2 separate regions of the Homo sapiens genome follow, and region 1 is linked to region 2. The links come from fine-mapping of genetic effects on gene expression. A gene starts in region 2. The other region holds a variant in brackets. All regions are shown on one strand. Distances are from middle to middle. Region 1 overlaps LOC105374007 (a long non-coding RNA gene). Region 2 holds the start of COL8A1 (collagen type VIII alpha 1 chain).

The links.
Region 1: its variant is fine-mapped to the expression of COL8A1 in skeletal muscle (GTEx, PIP above 0.99). The same link has a PIP of 0.9 or more in subcutaneous fat and thyroid.

Annotation. Positions count from the first base shown.
Region 1 is chr3:99,538,116-99,546,507 of GRCh38, reverse strand. The region is part of intron 1 of LOC105374007 (a long non-coding RNA gene); the gene reads left to right. LOC105374005 (a long non-coding RNA gene) reads left to right here. Exons shown (of 5, transcript XR_007095985.1): 1 at 1-990. Among named protein-coding and RNA genes, the nearest start is that of COL8A1, 96 kb to the left of the region's middle. The variant C/A (reference allele first, on the strand shown) is at 3,112.
Region 2 is chr3:99,634,431-99,642,822 of GRCh38, reverse strand. It overlaps COL8A1 (collagen type VIII alpha 1 chain), which reads right to left and starts at 4,229. Exons shown (of 4, transcript NM_020351.4): 1 at 4,159-4,229. It overlaps LOC124909401 (a long non-coding RNA gene), which reads left to right and starts at 4,143. Exons shown (of 2, transcript XR_007095981.1): 1 at 4,143-4,236; 2 at 4,889-5,455.

The DNA of each region.
Region 1 (8,392 bases), 96 kb after region 2:
ATTAATAATAGTAACAATGGGAGTGGTAAGTAATGGTAAGCATAAATGTTTCACGTGGATCTAACTCCTAAGTCATGCAAGGAGCACTCAGTTCTGTTCAGAACATACTGTGTTCTCTTTCTCTTTCTGTTTCCTTGCTTGGGAAATCAAGAGTTATGACTGGGAATGTAGTTTAAATGAGCCAGCAAAACACTCATCAAACGGTTTATTTTCCTAATCTTGGTGTATCAATTTCAAAACCTGAAAAGTTCATTTCATATTTCACAGGCTCTTTTATATATAGTGTCATAAATGCCAAGAAAGTTGTTGACTTAACTTTACATTTGTGAAAAGTAACCCTTAGTTGGCAAACAAATACTCCTGAACTGAAGGAGATAAGCTTCCTGTATACTTGCAAGTCGCTGCTTTTTGTTTTGTTTCATTTTCAAAAAACAAAAGACTTTTGGTTGCTTAAATTCTTATCACAAATAGCACAAATTTCCAGATTCTCAGCTGTGTTGAGGTCTCTAGCAGAAGTTCATTGCATTTTCTGCCAGCATTCTCCTTTAGAGGTGCTTTTACAACCAATCTTTAAGCTTGCTAAGGTTCAAATCACAGCTAACTCTTCCTGTTCAAAGCCACTGAAGAAAGACATATTTCAGAGAATCTAAACGTGGGAAAATTCTGTGCATAATCTCAGAACTTCAACTTTCTATCCCATCAAATTTGACTTAATAAAACTTCTCTTTCTCTCCTCTTTGTTTAGCAATATTAATGAAAAATGAATACAGGGTAAGAAACAGAAGGAAAAGAGGCAAAAATAGAGTATGGAGTACTTAAAATTTGTAACTAGCCTTTGAAGCATTTTTATTCATGTTATTCGGCAGATGCCTTCTGAAAAGTTTTCTGTTCAACAGAGTCATAAAATGTTAGCCCTAGAAGGTGCCTTGAAGACCACGATGAGTTAACTTTCTTCCTTTGCCAAGGAAGAAGCGATTACTTCAGCAACTGGTGGGTATCTCTTATATACGAGTGTTATGCTCACTGTGCTTTTCTGCATCTCTCTTGTTAGGTCTTGGTTATCACATAAACACTTGCCAGCAATCAGTATAATCAGTGTTGGCAAAACACAAATGTTAATGCCTTTTAATCAGCTAGGCTTTTAGAAAACTTGGGCTGAAAGCCCGGAATAATCCTACTTAGCTCTACAGATGAATGGTGCAGCAAGTTTTAAGAATTTTCATTCTTAATTAATGATGGTGACAGAAATGGCAGTTGTGTTCACAGTGATAGAAAAAAACCACATAGTCATGTGTTGTGTGGGCATGTGGGTGTGTGTGTCCTGACCTCACCACATGTTTCACATTCCCAACTTTCTTCTTACATTTCCTTCTAGCTTCTGTATTATTTAGCAATAAGCCTGGGGCAAGACACTGCCTCTGCTACCAAATGTTAGTGGAGCAAATACACCATTAATATTTCTTTGGCACGTGGGGAGGCGGGACATCTATGCAGTTTGTCCTTCCCAGATATCCTCATGTAGACCAAGTTGACCAATTTCTTTTCATAACTCAGGCCCTTTTGGCCGTGGGCCTATCTCTGTTCCTTCCATTTCCTTTCACTGCTTCCTGATAAGAAGTATAAGATTTGATGCCCTGAGTCAGAGGGTGAGGATATTTCTACTGCTAGCACATGCAGGTCAAAATCTGCTAGCACTTCTGCGGTTCCACACCCATGGATTCAACCAAATGCAGATTGAAAATATTCGGAAAAATAATTGCATCTGTACTGAATAGTACAGACTTTTTTTCTTGTCATTATCCCCTAAGTAGTACAGTATAATAGCTACTTACATAGCATTTATGTGTATTAGATATTATAACTACTCTAGAGGTGACTTAAAGATTATGAGAGAATGTACATAGGCTATATGCGAATACTATCTCATTTTATATCAGGGACTTGAGCATCCTCGAATTTTGGTATCTGTGGGGGCTACTGAAACCAATCCCCCACTGATAACAAGAGAGGACTGAAACCTTGGAACCTAGTAGTTGACACCTTAGAACCTAGGCATTTAATAACAACAAAAAAAGCCATTTATTCACTTAAGCTTGTGATTTTGGAACAAATTTTTGATGAGTAATCAGGATGAATAATAAAATTTACTTGATTATAAGAAAAGAGCTGCATTTCAAGAACTATGTTCACCTAAACATATTCTCCATAATTAGAACACTTTGGATTTAAAATCTTACCCTGAAGTACGTGCCAGTGATTGCCCTAAAAACCTTTCTATGGACAGTTACATATCCTTGATGAAATGAGCACTATAGGGACACCACTGTCTAGTTTCACCCTAATACTTCTGCTGAGGCTTTTCCTCCACACCTCCACAGCCTCTCTGCCTGTCAAGAACTCTACTCTTTGGGAGGGGCTTAAAGTACCCTAAGCTGTAGAACACAATGAGGGGTCTATGTAGTGTCTCTGATGGAGAGCAGCATACTCCAGGCATGAGTGAGCATCTTTTTGCTGGCACTTCCACCGTGGCTTGCCAGCAGCTGTTGATGCATGGTGTTTTCTGAGAGAGATGAGCAGCTAATGTGATCCTTTAGCATAAGCAGATGAGGAACTCAAGCAAGGGACCTTGAGGTGGGAGAGGATGTGGGGATGGGCTGCAAAAAGTGGTTTTGCTTTGACTTCCAAGAGGATCCCTGTGCTGGACAGACAGACTGTTTTCTAATACATCAGCTTCTTCTAGTCATAGATCCCTCCCCCACATCAGGGTTCTCCTCTACCCAAAGTTGTTTAATTGGTATTCTTTGAGAAACACTTTTATTGTCTGAGATTATGACCTTTCCCCATTTTTAAACTTAAAATGCTTGTTGTTCACAAAATGAGGGTGATGATAGATGGTATTTCTTATTTTTGATGGGCCAACTTGGCAAAATTGACACTTGGCAGTTTTCTGACAATTCTCTACATTTTACAAAAAATTTACTGGTTGTTGAATTCCCAAAGTTGCGAAACTAGGGTGTTCAGGTCTTCGGAACAAGGGTAGCCAGGAAAGCTTGGAGGGGAAAAGGAAGATCTTGCAGACACTATAAATAAGGCAGACAAGGACATTGAGTG[C/A]CAGAGGAAGGGAGGAGCAAACAGGTACTAGACAGGAAATGGGTTAAGTCAGAGGAAGTGAGATTAAGCAGCAAGGAATGGGCCTTGCAAAATCGATAGAAAGGAATGTGAAAAAGAAGTGACCTCAGGGGCAGGGTTGCAGCACAGGTGCTGGTGCATGTGGTAGTCTTGGAACTGGAATAAATGCCAGGTAAGTCAGACCTTGAAACCCCACTGCTACTTTGTCACAATGAAGGAGTAGAGGTTGCTAGAGGCTTCTGATTCAGTAGAAAGGGAACTCAGATGTGATATCTTCCTTCAACTTAGAACACACATAGTGGGGCTAGCCATGGGGTTTTCTGTGTTAGCAGAGGGAGGGAAATGTGATAACAGTGTCACAGGCTGCCAGGACAAGGGGAGACAGGCACCTCTCCAAAATCTCCAGAACATAACAGGAAATAGCAAGATCAGCATCTTCACCCAAAACAGATATTGTTAATGTTTTTAACACTTACATCCAAATATAATGGATGATAAAACAGATAATACATTGCTGTTTCAATTCATATTTTCCTGATTAGTAGAGATTCGACAGCTTTTCTGACTTTCAGAGTCATTTGTACTTCTTTTCAAATTGCCTATTTGAAATTGACCATTTAGTTTTCTGGCTATTAGAATGTATTAAGGGATAGAATATGGTGTGGTTTTGTTTTTGCTTTTTTAGAGACAGTGTTTCACTCTGTTGCCTAGGCTGGAGTGTAGTGGCAAGATCATAACACGTTGCAGCCTTGAACTCCTGAGTTTTTTAAATTTTTACCTACCTATTTACATATGAGATTAAGATCTTGACCTTGGACTCAGAGAGCCTGGGTTCAACTCTTGGCTTTGCTACTTATGTGTGATCTACTTCTTAGAGCTTCAAGTACATAATCATTAATGAGGAAATTCTATGTAAAGGGCTTAGCACAAGATTTGGCACCGTACATGAATGGTTGTGATTGTATTTAATAAAAAAAAATTCAGATCACTAATAATAAAGACCAACTCCACTCATCCACTCTAGTCAGTTAATTCTGCTTCAACCTGAAACTTAGGCTGGGGTTCACACTGGGGTTTCTATTCTGAGTTGTGCTGTTAACTGCTATTCCTGAGATACAGGATAAACACTATAGATATAGATATGGATGAGATATTATTGCACCTCATCTGCTCACTTTATTATGTATTAGTTACCTCTTATAAATAGTTTAGAAACTAATGATTAATGATATTCATATATAATCATATCTAAGATCTATATCTGGTATAACTATTCTTGTTTTATATTTTATTATACTGGAACAGCTCGTGTCCTTGGTCTCTTGCCTCGGCGCCTGGGTGGCTTGCTGCCCACAACAATCGTTATTGAGTTGTAAGTTATGATAGCAATAACTGAAGTGAATGATGCTTTGAGTATATGAAAAAGGGAATAAAGTTCCAGTTTTCCGCTAGAATATTTTGGAGAATTATTTGTCATTATTATCAATAACTATAATATGAAACTGTTAATATAATTTAAAATATCCTTATACCAAAGGTATAACTAAGGTCATTTCATGAAAATTGATAATTTCTCTTAAGAATTCTATTAAGAATATATGTGACTAAATAATTTTGAGAGAAAATATGGAATGTTTCTTCTTTTTCCTCTTATTACTGAATTATGTGTAAAGCTATAAAATGTTACATAAAGGACTTATAAATGTCACCCCAGTCTCTCTTACCAATAATTTTTATTTTATGAAACTGGAATTTCTATTAAAATGAAATAGGTAGAATTAGGAATTTACAGTAATAATCTTGATAGCTCTGTGCTTCAGAGACTATTTCCCATTGATCTCTACAAATTACATGGAACTTTTGAGAGGAAGCAGATGTTATGTCCTCTTGGTGGATATCAAATGCATGTGGTCATGAAGGGGCTTGTTGAGTGAAAGCATGCAAGAAACCAGACTGGCATCACAATCTAAGTCTGTCAGTTCCCAAAAGTGGACCCCTGGGGCTCAAACAAAGCCAAGGGTTGAGGCAATTAGGCTGATGATTACTTCAACTGCCCTGCTTCTTGCATCTCTAAATGGTGCTTCTATCAATTCTAGGAAAATGAACAATTATGAAACAGTGTTTGGATTTACTTCTAACTCAGGTGGCTTTCCTCATTATAATCCTATAGGCTGTGGCGAATGGCATAATGTCTATTCATCTCCAGGTTTTGCAGAATGAAAGAGATAAAGTAAATGGGACATAATTCTTTATTTTAGAAGGAATTTGTTTTCTAAATGAGAATGTAAATGGGATGATACGTATGAACATGGACATGACAGTATCAGGTCATCACTGAGAACAACCAAGCATCTGCTGGTAGCCTGTGTGATAAAACTTCAGCTGAATGGACAGAAATATCATCAGAAACAAAGTTTGTGTTGGTGGACTGACACCATCAGGATTGACCTTTCTGGTTTGGTGACTGATGGGATTACAGGATTAGGTGCACCAAAGAAGTCATCTCAAGTCTTTACAGGTTACTTGTTACACCAGAGTTTTGTCTTTCTGACTCTCATATGTGCTGCTCTATCATGGAATTTTCATGCTCCATTAAAAATTAGATGTGATTTTTTTTGAAAGAGGATGAAGGCAAGGGATTGAGAGAGAATTCTTTTCAGACAATGGCAAATATAGTGAATTTTACTACTCAGAAAAAAATAACTCTTAGATAAGTTTCTTAGAGATCTCTATTATATAATAGCACAAAATATACATGGCCATGATGTGTTTGATGCAGGCTGTCATGAGTGAATGACACAATTGAAAATAAACTAAACTCCCACATGCCCAACAAAGTCCAGGCAATGGTGTTGATAACCACAATACACAGACTCAAGGGCATTTGGTGCCAGGTTCCAAGGGAGCTGCATTGTATCTTCAAGTTAAAGCCAGTCACAGAACTATCACCAGAGGCTGAGTATGCCATGCTACTGAGCAAGATCTCCTAAGAGTGGCACAAGGCAGCATTGCAGCTGGACTGCATGGAACAATGAAACACATCTGGACTACAAATGGAACACCTGGGTCCTAGTCTCAGCTTTGTCCTTCAGTAGTTGTGATTTCATGGATAAATCATTGTACTTTTTACTATCCCCATTTATTTGTTTGTGAAACCAGAAGATAGGAATAGATTATTGTATTAGTCAGGGTTCTCTAGAGGGACAGAACTAATAGGATGGGAGTTTATTAAGTTACACGAACACATGATCTCACAATAGGCTGTCTGCAAGGTGAGGAGCAAGGAGAGCCAGTCCAAGTAACAAAACGGAAGAACTTGGAATCCAATGTTCAAGGGCAGGAAGCATCCAGCATGGGAGAAAGATGTAGGCTGGGAGGCTATGCCAATCTAGTCTTTTCATGTTTTTCCTGCCTGCTTTTTATTCTGGCCACAATGGTGGGTGACTAGATGGTGCCCACCCAGATCGAGGGTCCATCTAACTTTCCCAGTCCACTGACTCAAATGCTAATCTCCTTTGGCAGCACCCTCACAGAGACACCCAGAATCTATACTTTGCGTCCTTCAATCCAATCAAGTTGACACTCAGTATTAACCACAATTATTTTCAAGGTTTTTTTTTAGCTCTAAAATGTTAATGATTTGCCAGTATAACTGGCAATCAATTGTCACCCTCTTTCTTTTGTTTGTTTTTCATTTTTAAAGTGAAGGGTTTAAATGTATAATGTTTTCTCTTGGTTTATCCATATGTACTTTTATTTCAGTGAATGGAGAAACACAATTGACATTTAAATTAAGGACTATTGCAAATACGATATCTGTCTTTCTTGAGGCTATAGTTCTGTAGGAATAAATAATATTCTTTGATAGCTGGGATATGACCAAAATTCCACAGAAATAGGACAAAACAATGCTTACCCTAGTTGCCAGAAAGTTGGCTTTCAACAAATGCATAATTTTCTGGTATTTTTGATCTCAAACTCCACCCTACTGCAAAAATGCAATTTGAGCCAAATACCATACACCATATCCAGGGATGAGGTAAATTTAATCTCTTTTGGTTCTGGATGAAATTCAACTGATTTTTTTTTTTTTTTTTTTACTATTTTGGTACAGTCTTCAATAGGAATCATTATCCTATTTAATAGACTATATTTTTCAAAAATATGTGGGCAGTAAAGATAGTATCATAAAAATTATATCCACCAAAGTCAATCTTTCTAATAAATAGTTGGCAGCTCTAAATTATAATGAGAACCTCTAATTTATTTTGAGCCCCCAATTTATTAAAAATGCTTTAAAGAGATATCATCTATATTTTATTCAACCATTTTCCATTAAATGTACAGTTTTGTCAGATTAATTTTAGTTAGATTAAAGCAGAGATTCCTTCTTCCTTTAAAAATGCAATGTTTACAGTCTAGTCTGCACTCATTTAGGTATTTCGTCAAGTATGATGTTTGTTTTCTATCAACTCACAATTATGGAAAACAGTCTCCATAATAAAATAAAATAAAAGCATACATTCACGATAGAGTCACAGTAAACATATATGGCATGCATGTGATACATACACATGACAGAATTAACTCTTTACTAAATAGTGACTGAATGTCTGCTGTAGTCAGGCACTTTATTATACACTGGAGGTACAGCAGTGAGCCCAAGAGACACAATTCCTAACTGACATAGCTTATTATCAACAGGGAATGATTGCTCCAAAGGCACATTAACTTCTTTCTCACACAAGTGTAGGAAGTGCAGCAAGCCCTGTTGCTGCCTGATGTGGCACAGCAATACTGAGTCTATGAACCAGAAGGAACTGAAAGATGCCTTTTGTACCTTTTGTGGAGTCCTGTGCACCCACCATGGACCCCAGAAAGAGATATTGGATATTTCTAGATTCCTGTAAGAGCAATTACCAGTACTTTAAGAGAAATTTCTGCCTCCAAACTGGATTTTCATTTTTCTGTTTGACTTTTTATGCTTTGGTAAGCATGAGAGGCAATATGATCTGATAGCTAAGAATCTGAGTTCTGGAACTAGGCAACATGGGTTCAAGTCCCAGCTCTGCTATTTTGTAGTTCTGGGACCTTAGACATGTGACATACCCCATTTCCCTCACCTGTGAGATAAAGATGATACTGTTATCTACCCCGCTGATTTATTGTGGCTTACCGTGAGTACTACATTAATTAATAAATGTAAAATACTTAGAGTACTGCTTGGCATATAGGAGGCACCCAGAAGATATTATTATACATA
Region 2 (8,392 bases):
AGGGTGAAAATTTATATCCTATTTAAGAGAAGTATGAGGAAATTTTTGGTAATGAGAGAAGCCACAAGTATGAGTGGTTCTTTAGAAACTTGTTCTATGAGAATTAAAAAGAGATTTTTTCCAGGGAAAGAACAAAGGAAATGTCACAGAGGGACTATGACTGCATCTGCACATCCTGAAAGGTTTGCTGAAGGAGAGAAGGGTCAGTTTTTGTTGTCCAGGAGGGACGATGGAAGTGAGCCCCAAATAAATAGAGGACACCGAAGGTGAATTGTCAGGTGTGTGTTCATATTTTACATAGTCAGCTAAAGTTGTTGCTTTTGCTCTTATCCTACATTGAGAAGTTAGAATTCATTATTTTTATTTTTATTGATTACTCTGTGATCAGTTTTGGTGAACACTTTTTGTTTTATTCACTTCAGTTTGATCTGATGCAATTTCAATGGCTTCATGAATTTGAGTACACACGACTTCAGGCTTGTAGACATTCTAACCTTGTGTGACTCCCTTTAACCCCATTCCTGCAAATCTGCTTGAGGAAAAACTATGAAGAACCTTCTCCCTCAAACAACAAATGGAGTTACTAAAGTGATAGAGGGATCTCTCATTAGCAGCTTTTCTCTGTTTGTGTTGAAATGTGGTTAATGCTCATACTTCTCACTCCTTATCTCTCTAGAAAGGGGAAGTTTAATAGAGCTATAATTTAGTAGTGTGGGGTGTAACCTGCTGTTAATATCTGCCAGGTCACTGGAAGATCTTCTTCATTATATTCTTAGCATTTTGTGACAACTTTTGAACAGGTTCTTTAAATAAATGTGTATTCCCAGATGCTTTAGGGATTGAGATATCCTTTTCACACAATGCTAAAAAGAAAGATTCTCTAAATTCCAAAGGGCATTCATTCTCCCCTTAATTCTCCTCTCCTCTCCTTTTGGTTTTCTTTTCACTCAATAGTTAGACCAGTGCACCTTTCACAAGAATACACTCAAGTTTCAAGATCTGTACCTTCTTTAACTTATGTACATGTATGTTTATAGGGGTCTGGTTGAAGAGAAGGAGGTCAAGGCAGAAACACCTAGCTCCCAGAGGGTTACTTGGAGGACCAGAGGTTTTAGGAAATACGGTGTGTCTCAATCTGTCTGCAAGTTTCCATACCAAAGTGAGTAACCATGGATAAGGAGTAAATTGCTGTTTCTAACTTTTAACTTACAAATAAGCACTCAACATTACACTTTTCAGGAGACTTAGGGTTGGTTTTGTTGACGTGACCCATCTGTTAGTTAAAAACATGTTTTAAGGAGTTTTTTATTTTAACTCATAGTATAGCTTTTAGAATTATGACTAGCAAATTACTGTGGGTTTTTAAATATGGGGCAAACCTGAAATCATTTTCATCATTAGAACCAAGCTGTTCTTTTCTGCTAAAGAAGGAGGGCTAAGAAGAAGGGCATAGTAGAGATGGATCTTATACTCTCATTGATTAAAAAACAACAAACAAATAAAAAGACAAGAGCAGACATGGATTTTTGCTCTTCCCCATCCCCTCATGTTCACATAAATGAGGGTTGGGAGAAGTTGCGTTTCGTAACAGAGCTCCTAATCTTGCTTTTCTCCTAGGGCACTTCTGTGATTCCTCCAGCTTCTCTTTCAAGTCCCTTTTCACCCCAATCCTCTTCTCCTTGATTTTTATTTCATAAATAGGAATAAAGTGGCATATGTTTTCTGATCATGAAAAGGATATCATTTTATAATTTTGACAGTAGTAGAACATCTAAAATGCACATTTCTGTAGGATCAGCAAGCCCTCAAAATCAGTAGAGCTCCCTTCTTGTGTCTCTAGTGAAAGCGGCAGCTTCTCATCTTATCTTTTCTGAGAAACATTAAGAAGTCCTCCCAAGTCTGCCTCAATGGCATTGGTTGGGTATAGTCATGGACTTGATCAAGAGGCAGCTATATAATGGCAAAAAGAGGAGACTCACGTGAAGTATCCACATCCCATGCAGAAGGGGAGATTTGGGGGCGACTACATGAAACTTCGACACTGATTTTTCTAAAAGCTTAAGAAGAGCAGTGTCATCTTGCTTGGTATGTACCCTATGGAGAAAGGATAGCTTTGCTCCTGGGAAACTTAGATCATGAGCAATCTAAGATGATCTCACTCAGTTATTTAGGGGCTTGAACTTGATGGGACATAGGGAAGGCAGTTACTGTTTAACGGTCCATAGCTGGTCCGGTGGATTAATTGCCAGAGAAAGCAGAAGTAAACCCTTGGAGAATACTTTTATCCCCAAACTTAGGAATAACTGGAAGCTCATTTAAACTGGGAGCATTTCCCCCTCCACCCCAAGAAAAGATAACTTCCCTCAAGGGGATCTGGTGAATGAAGCAGCGTATTTTCATCCTTGTGATAATGGGTGTGAGTCAGGCACTACCATAAAAGAAGAATTAACTTGAATGTGCCACATACTTGGTCTGGCCTTGTCCCATACCTGTACTCTTGTCATGGTTGATTACCTATGTGCATCAGATATAAAGCAAGCAGTCTGCATTGTGGCATGAGATAAAAGGTATGTTAATATGCTCAGGTCACATACTATCTTGGCCAATAGTAATTTTATATAATTTGCTTAAAGGAAACTGCACTTCTTGCAATATTTTTTTCCAATGAAGAAAAATTTAACGTGACAGAAGCTTTATATATAACTCTTGCATTTGAGTAACAGCATTGAATCCTCTCCATCTCAAGCAGAACTTTTAAATATTTTTATTACTTTTGATATGCAAAAGCTAAGGAGAAATGGTTTGGAAGACCTAAGTTAAATTTCTAATGAGTCTTGTTTCTTTAATAGGGGAGAATTTCATACAGCTTCGGTGAGTTTTTTCTTTCCACATGAGATAATATAAACAAACAAAAAAATAAAAAAGTGAAACATTTCTCTTCTTACTTTAAGAACCTTAAGGGCTAAAAGAGTGGTTTGGTTTCCTGACTGGTACTTTTGGTTTGCCTTCTCTAAGTGGTCTTGAGCAATTCCCCAGAGGAAACATTTGAAGAGGGTTTTTCTCCCACTTGAGAGAGTTTCATCCCACACAACCCACAGAATTTGATGGCAAACTTCATGGACCAAGTGTCTGGTTTTACAGAAGTGGCTGTGGAGTATGTTTTTCCTTTCACAGGTGCACATTTATTCTACCTTAGGAATAAGAAGAGATCATTTTCTTTTAAAGAGGGTAGCTTAAACACTGAATATCTCTGATAATTGGATGCCAGTCAGGTAGGTTGTGATTTACTAAATGCGGGGGAAAAAAGGTGGAAAGAAGGATTAAAACTTCCAAAGCCTTTCTCGCTGATCTTTCTTTACAACCATCTGGTGTGCACAGAAGTATTGTATAATCTGGCCTGTATTATTCTCTTACTGTGAAACATATTGAAACACTTTATGTTTAGGTGTGTGTACAGAAATTCATGAAGTTCTTTTATACACTTTCTTAGTTCCATCGTAATTCTCATTTTAGGATGTCGTGAAAAGATAGCCTGGTGAGAGAGCACATTCTACCCTGGCTTGTGAATTTGGATTTGTTCCTTCCTATCTACCAGCCACCTGATTACTTACTGTCCCCGTGCAAAGGGCACCCGTTCACATCATTTTTTTCCAAGCGCTAAAACCTGGAAAGATATTTTTTTAAAGGACTCACAGAAGCTGTCTTGGGGGTTTGGAAAACATCACAAAATTGTTAGCAGACCTTTTGACTGTGCTATTTTTAGGAAGTTAACTGTGTTCTTTTAAAGTACATTTTTGACAATGGGACAACGTTTTCCTTGCCCCCACTGATGTGTGAAATATGTACAGTGAAAAACGTCAGTACAACACCCCAAACAGATACATTTTAACCTAAGCAACAGTCAGCAACAGGAGAAAAAGTGATTTAAAAAGAGAAAGGTTTCGCAATATTTATGCTGCTGTTTCTTCCCTGAAGGAGCTTTTATTTTACCATTCAAACAGAAGTTTGTTTTCAAACCAGTTGCTAGTTAAAGGAGCAGCGGATCGCGCATCCGTAAGAATCAGCTCTAACCAAACAGCAAACGCGTTGGCCAGAGGGTGACTTATTCCCCCATAGCAACCCCTGGTAGGTGAGCTGCCTGCAGAAGTGCTGTCTTACCTTGAGCACGTAAGATCAGGGAGAGAGGCTCGCTGGCTCCCACGGAGAGGATCGGGGAAGGGCTGTGATCCGCTGCTGGTAACATGCACTTGGCTTTTATGGGCAGGTGGGAGGAGCTGCTCCTCATAGTAGGTGGGCAGGGAAGGAGCGGCGGGCGGGCAGCCTCTGGAGGAGCTGGACACTCTTCTCTGGGGAGGGGCGGGCAGAGACTGGAGCCCGCAAGGCGGAGGAGAGACGACGGGGCGGGGGGAGGGGGAGCGCGGTCACAACGGAGGAAGGAGTGGAAAAGGGAGAGAGAGGGAGAAGGGAAAAAAGAGAGGGAACTAGAAATAGTGAAAGGGATCTTGACCACAGATGGGGAAAGGTGGGGGAGAAAATGAATAGCAGAGACAGAGAGAGAGAGAGTGTCTGGGAGGAAAGGGGAATCGGAGTATTTTCCGTTTTTGCATGACATTTTTTGGCAGAGGGAGTTGTGGGTGATTGTGACTTTTGAAGGTGTTTTCTGTGAATTTGGGAATTTGAAAAGCTACATAGCGGTCCGGGAGAACTGAAGGGTTTCTAAGCGAGGCAAGGGAGGTGAAGCTGGGCGTCCGGGCAGCAGAGCCAAAGTTCAGGGTGGACCCGGACCTGGAGCTGGAGGCACTGACATGGCCTGGAGCCAGGCAGCCCCCAGCCCTCAGCCCCGTCCCACCGCCCGCGGGTGAAAATCGCCCCATCCCTCTCCCTCCAGGCAAGGCTTATTTGACAAGGAAGTTCCTGCGCTGCCTGTCCTCTGAGCATCCAGAGGCCCCTTTTGAGACTTCGGCAGCATTAAAGTAAATCCAGCAACGGGGAGGATTCGCGTGGACTTGCTTGTGGAGACAGGAACCTCAGAACCAGCCTGGGTCTTCCAGCATCTGCTTATGTAACGTAGGATTTCAGAGCTCTCTGCCCTCTGGTTATTTTCGGTATTTAAAACACTCTCATTCCTAACAATCGGAAAACGTCTTGGTGCCACAGTTCTTTCTCAGTGTGTCTTAAACATTAAGAGAGGATTCAACCAACAAGTGGCTAAAGGATCAGTCTGAAATTACTAAGAAATGCATTCAGAGAAAGAAAAACAAGCTCCTTTCGCTGCTGAGTGGTGACTCACTTCCTAGCCCAAGCCTGATTTTTGCCACCAAAGGAATTAAAGCATTTTAAAAGAGAACCTGAGACTTGGGGTGGGAGATACAGTACCGGGAGGGGGAAAAGGCGGGAATGGGAGGGGGGAGGGATGGGTAGGCTGGAAATAATAAAGGAACGAACTTGTACTGAATATGTATATATGTACTTCATTCAGTGTTCACCGCAACCTTATGAGGTAGGTATGATTCATATTGTGCAGATTTATTTATTTTTTTTTTAATTTAAAGAAAGGCATCTCTAAGGGTTTAAATAACTAGCTCAAGCTAGCGAGAGGGGGAGCCACAGCTAGCGAGCTTGCAAACCTTAGGCACTCTTCAGTACACCAGGCTGCCGTATAGAACACCTAGGTTCGTCTCAGGTTAGATCCTGATGTCATTGGCTGGTAGCAGGCTCCAAGAGAAGGAAACTTGATGGTGAAGAGCAGAATTACTCAAACTTAGCACTACTGAAACTTTCGGGAGAATATTTCTCTGTTGTAGGGACCTCTCCTGTGCACTGTAGAATGTTAAGCAGTGTCCGTGGCCTCTACCCACCAGATGCCAGTAGCAGTACCCACTCCGCACTCGCCACCCAGCTGTGAAAATAAAAAATGTCTCTAGATTTAGCCAAATGTCGCTGAGGGACAAAATCCCCTCCTCTTCTTAAGAACTATTCGTCTAAAAAAGGCCCACAACTATAAAAAAGCATTTTAAAAGAATCTATTAAGAAAATACCCAGTAGTGCCATTTGGATAATAATAATACCTACGTCCATATGTGCCGAGTTTACACAGCACTTAGGTTTTTACATACGTATTTCCATCTGTTAGCTTCAAGAGCTCAAAGCCTCAATTACTTCCTTTGTAACTAAGCTTATTCTCAATTGGTTACGTCTGGGAGTCAACGAAATAAACTCCCATGTGCCCGGGATATGAGGCAAGAACAATCATATATGAAATAAAAAATTTAAAATTTTTATCGTAAACACAAATTTGACACCAGAGTTTTCAAATTTACTCACGATGTTTTGCATTATTGATTATTCGCCTTTTTATAATTTTTTATCTCTATGTTCCCTATTCAAATTATATTCAATAATTTTTTGGCTGCACAAAGTTATAACTAGTGGCTTACTAGCTAGTAAAAAATAAGTGCTCAATAAATATGTATAGTCTCGCTAATTGAATAAACAGCAATATTGAGGACTGACAATAGAGAATGGTCAGCATTTGTTAGTTTAATGAATGCTTAGAAAGCTAAAACTTTCACATCAACTTTCTGCCCGTTTGCTGTTTGGTTTTACTCTCTTCTTACCCTCCATAACTCAGTTTTCCTCTTCCCAAATAGTATGTCTTTTGAGGATGTGGCCAAATCTACTGAGTGAAGTCTGTCAAACGAGTAACACTTGTTACTAGACCTAGAAATAGGACTGCATTATCTATTCTTGGACATAACGCTGAAATCAGATGTGATTTTACAAGCACAATACCACTTTTGGAACTTTTTAATTTAGCAAAGAAATGTGTTCTGGGGAAACAAAATGGGACTTTTAGAGGAGAAGCTGGGTGATAAAGTATGTTAGTAAATACCCTTATCAGATTACAACAAATCATCTTTTCTATCCTAAGTTAATTCTTCTCAAACATTCCAGTTCCATCACATACGTATGAAAAAAAAAAAATACCAGAAAGGCAAGAAAAGCACATTTGAAGAAAAGACAATTGATGGCTGTAGGCTGAATTTCTCTTCTTATTTTTAATTCTTTCTTCCTTTCAAACCAGCCAACATAACAAAAGCACTGCTTTCATTTTTTTGGATGGCACTAATAATTAGTTCATTTCTCCCATTCACACTTACCTGAATCTGATTCAGTAGCAGATCTGGACAACAAGTCAGGAATCCAGGAATGTCGTCTCTTTGCTGACTCTTAGTGTGCCCTTCCTAGAATCTCTCTGAAGGTGACTGAGGTTTGAAATGACCTAGTTTGGTCTTCTGTGGAAGGAAAGGAATCCAATGACAACATACTAGATGCTCTGAAGTTTCCATTGTGTGGCTATAACAGCTACAGATCATTACCTTACTTTTGAGAGCTTTGCAAATGTAACCCTTTTTTGGAGTTTATTTAGAATTAATCAGTTAACAAATATTTATTAAGAATGGATATCAGACAATGTGAGGTATTCAAAGCAGAGGAAAATATGACATCTTTTCTCACAGAGGAAGAAAAGCATGAAATCCTGATAGTTGAATTTTAGTAAAGAGACTTCAGGGAGGAGGTGGCATTTGAGCTGAGCCATGGAAAGTAGCATTTGAATAGACGAGTGATGGACAGTAGTACATTCCAGGCAAGGGAGGATATGTGTGCAACCAGGGAAATCACAGGAATATTCAGAAGGTGGTGAATTGGCCAGCATGACTGTATAGAAAGGTCCATGTGGTAGAACAATGAGGCTGAGAAATGGAGAGGAGGGATGAGGAGGGATGAGGTCACCTCAGTAGTCTGAAGTATAAACTATATTCTGTAGGCAATGCAGAATCAATGAAGACTTTTGAGCAATAGAATGGCATGGTGAAAGTGGCATATTTTCAAGATTTCATTTTTCTTTGAATATAGGGTCTTTATTGTGGCTTTGCAGATAAATGCTTGCCTGTGCATCTCAGACTGATAGCATACTTAGAAATAGAGAAAACAGAGTGTCTGCATCCTGCAGACTTGGAGGCCTGAGCAAGGTGGCAGAAACAGTAGTGGTTCTAGCCCAGTTTTCCCTGGAGTGTCCTGTATGGTTGTAGGAAGGGGGTAGGAAGGCAGGACCCTCTCACGGTGTGGCCAGGGTGACATATGGGATTCACATAAAGAGTGATGTCTTCTCTGTGTGTCCGAGGAGCCCAGTGTCTTTCTCACCTGCTGTAGCTTTACATTATCCCTAAATAATATACCTGATCCATGAGATCCTTGAGTTTTCAAGGATTTCTGGATTGGAAAACAGTGTGATCTGGCTTTAAAAACTGCACATTCACATCTATGTTCTCAAATAGTTAATTTTTAACTATTTGTTTGTGCTGCCCATGCCAGATTTCAAGCTCTGATT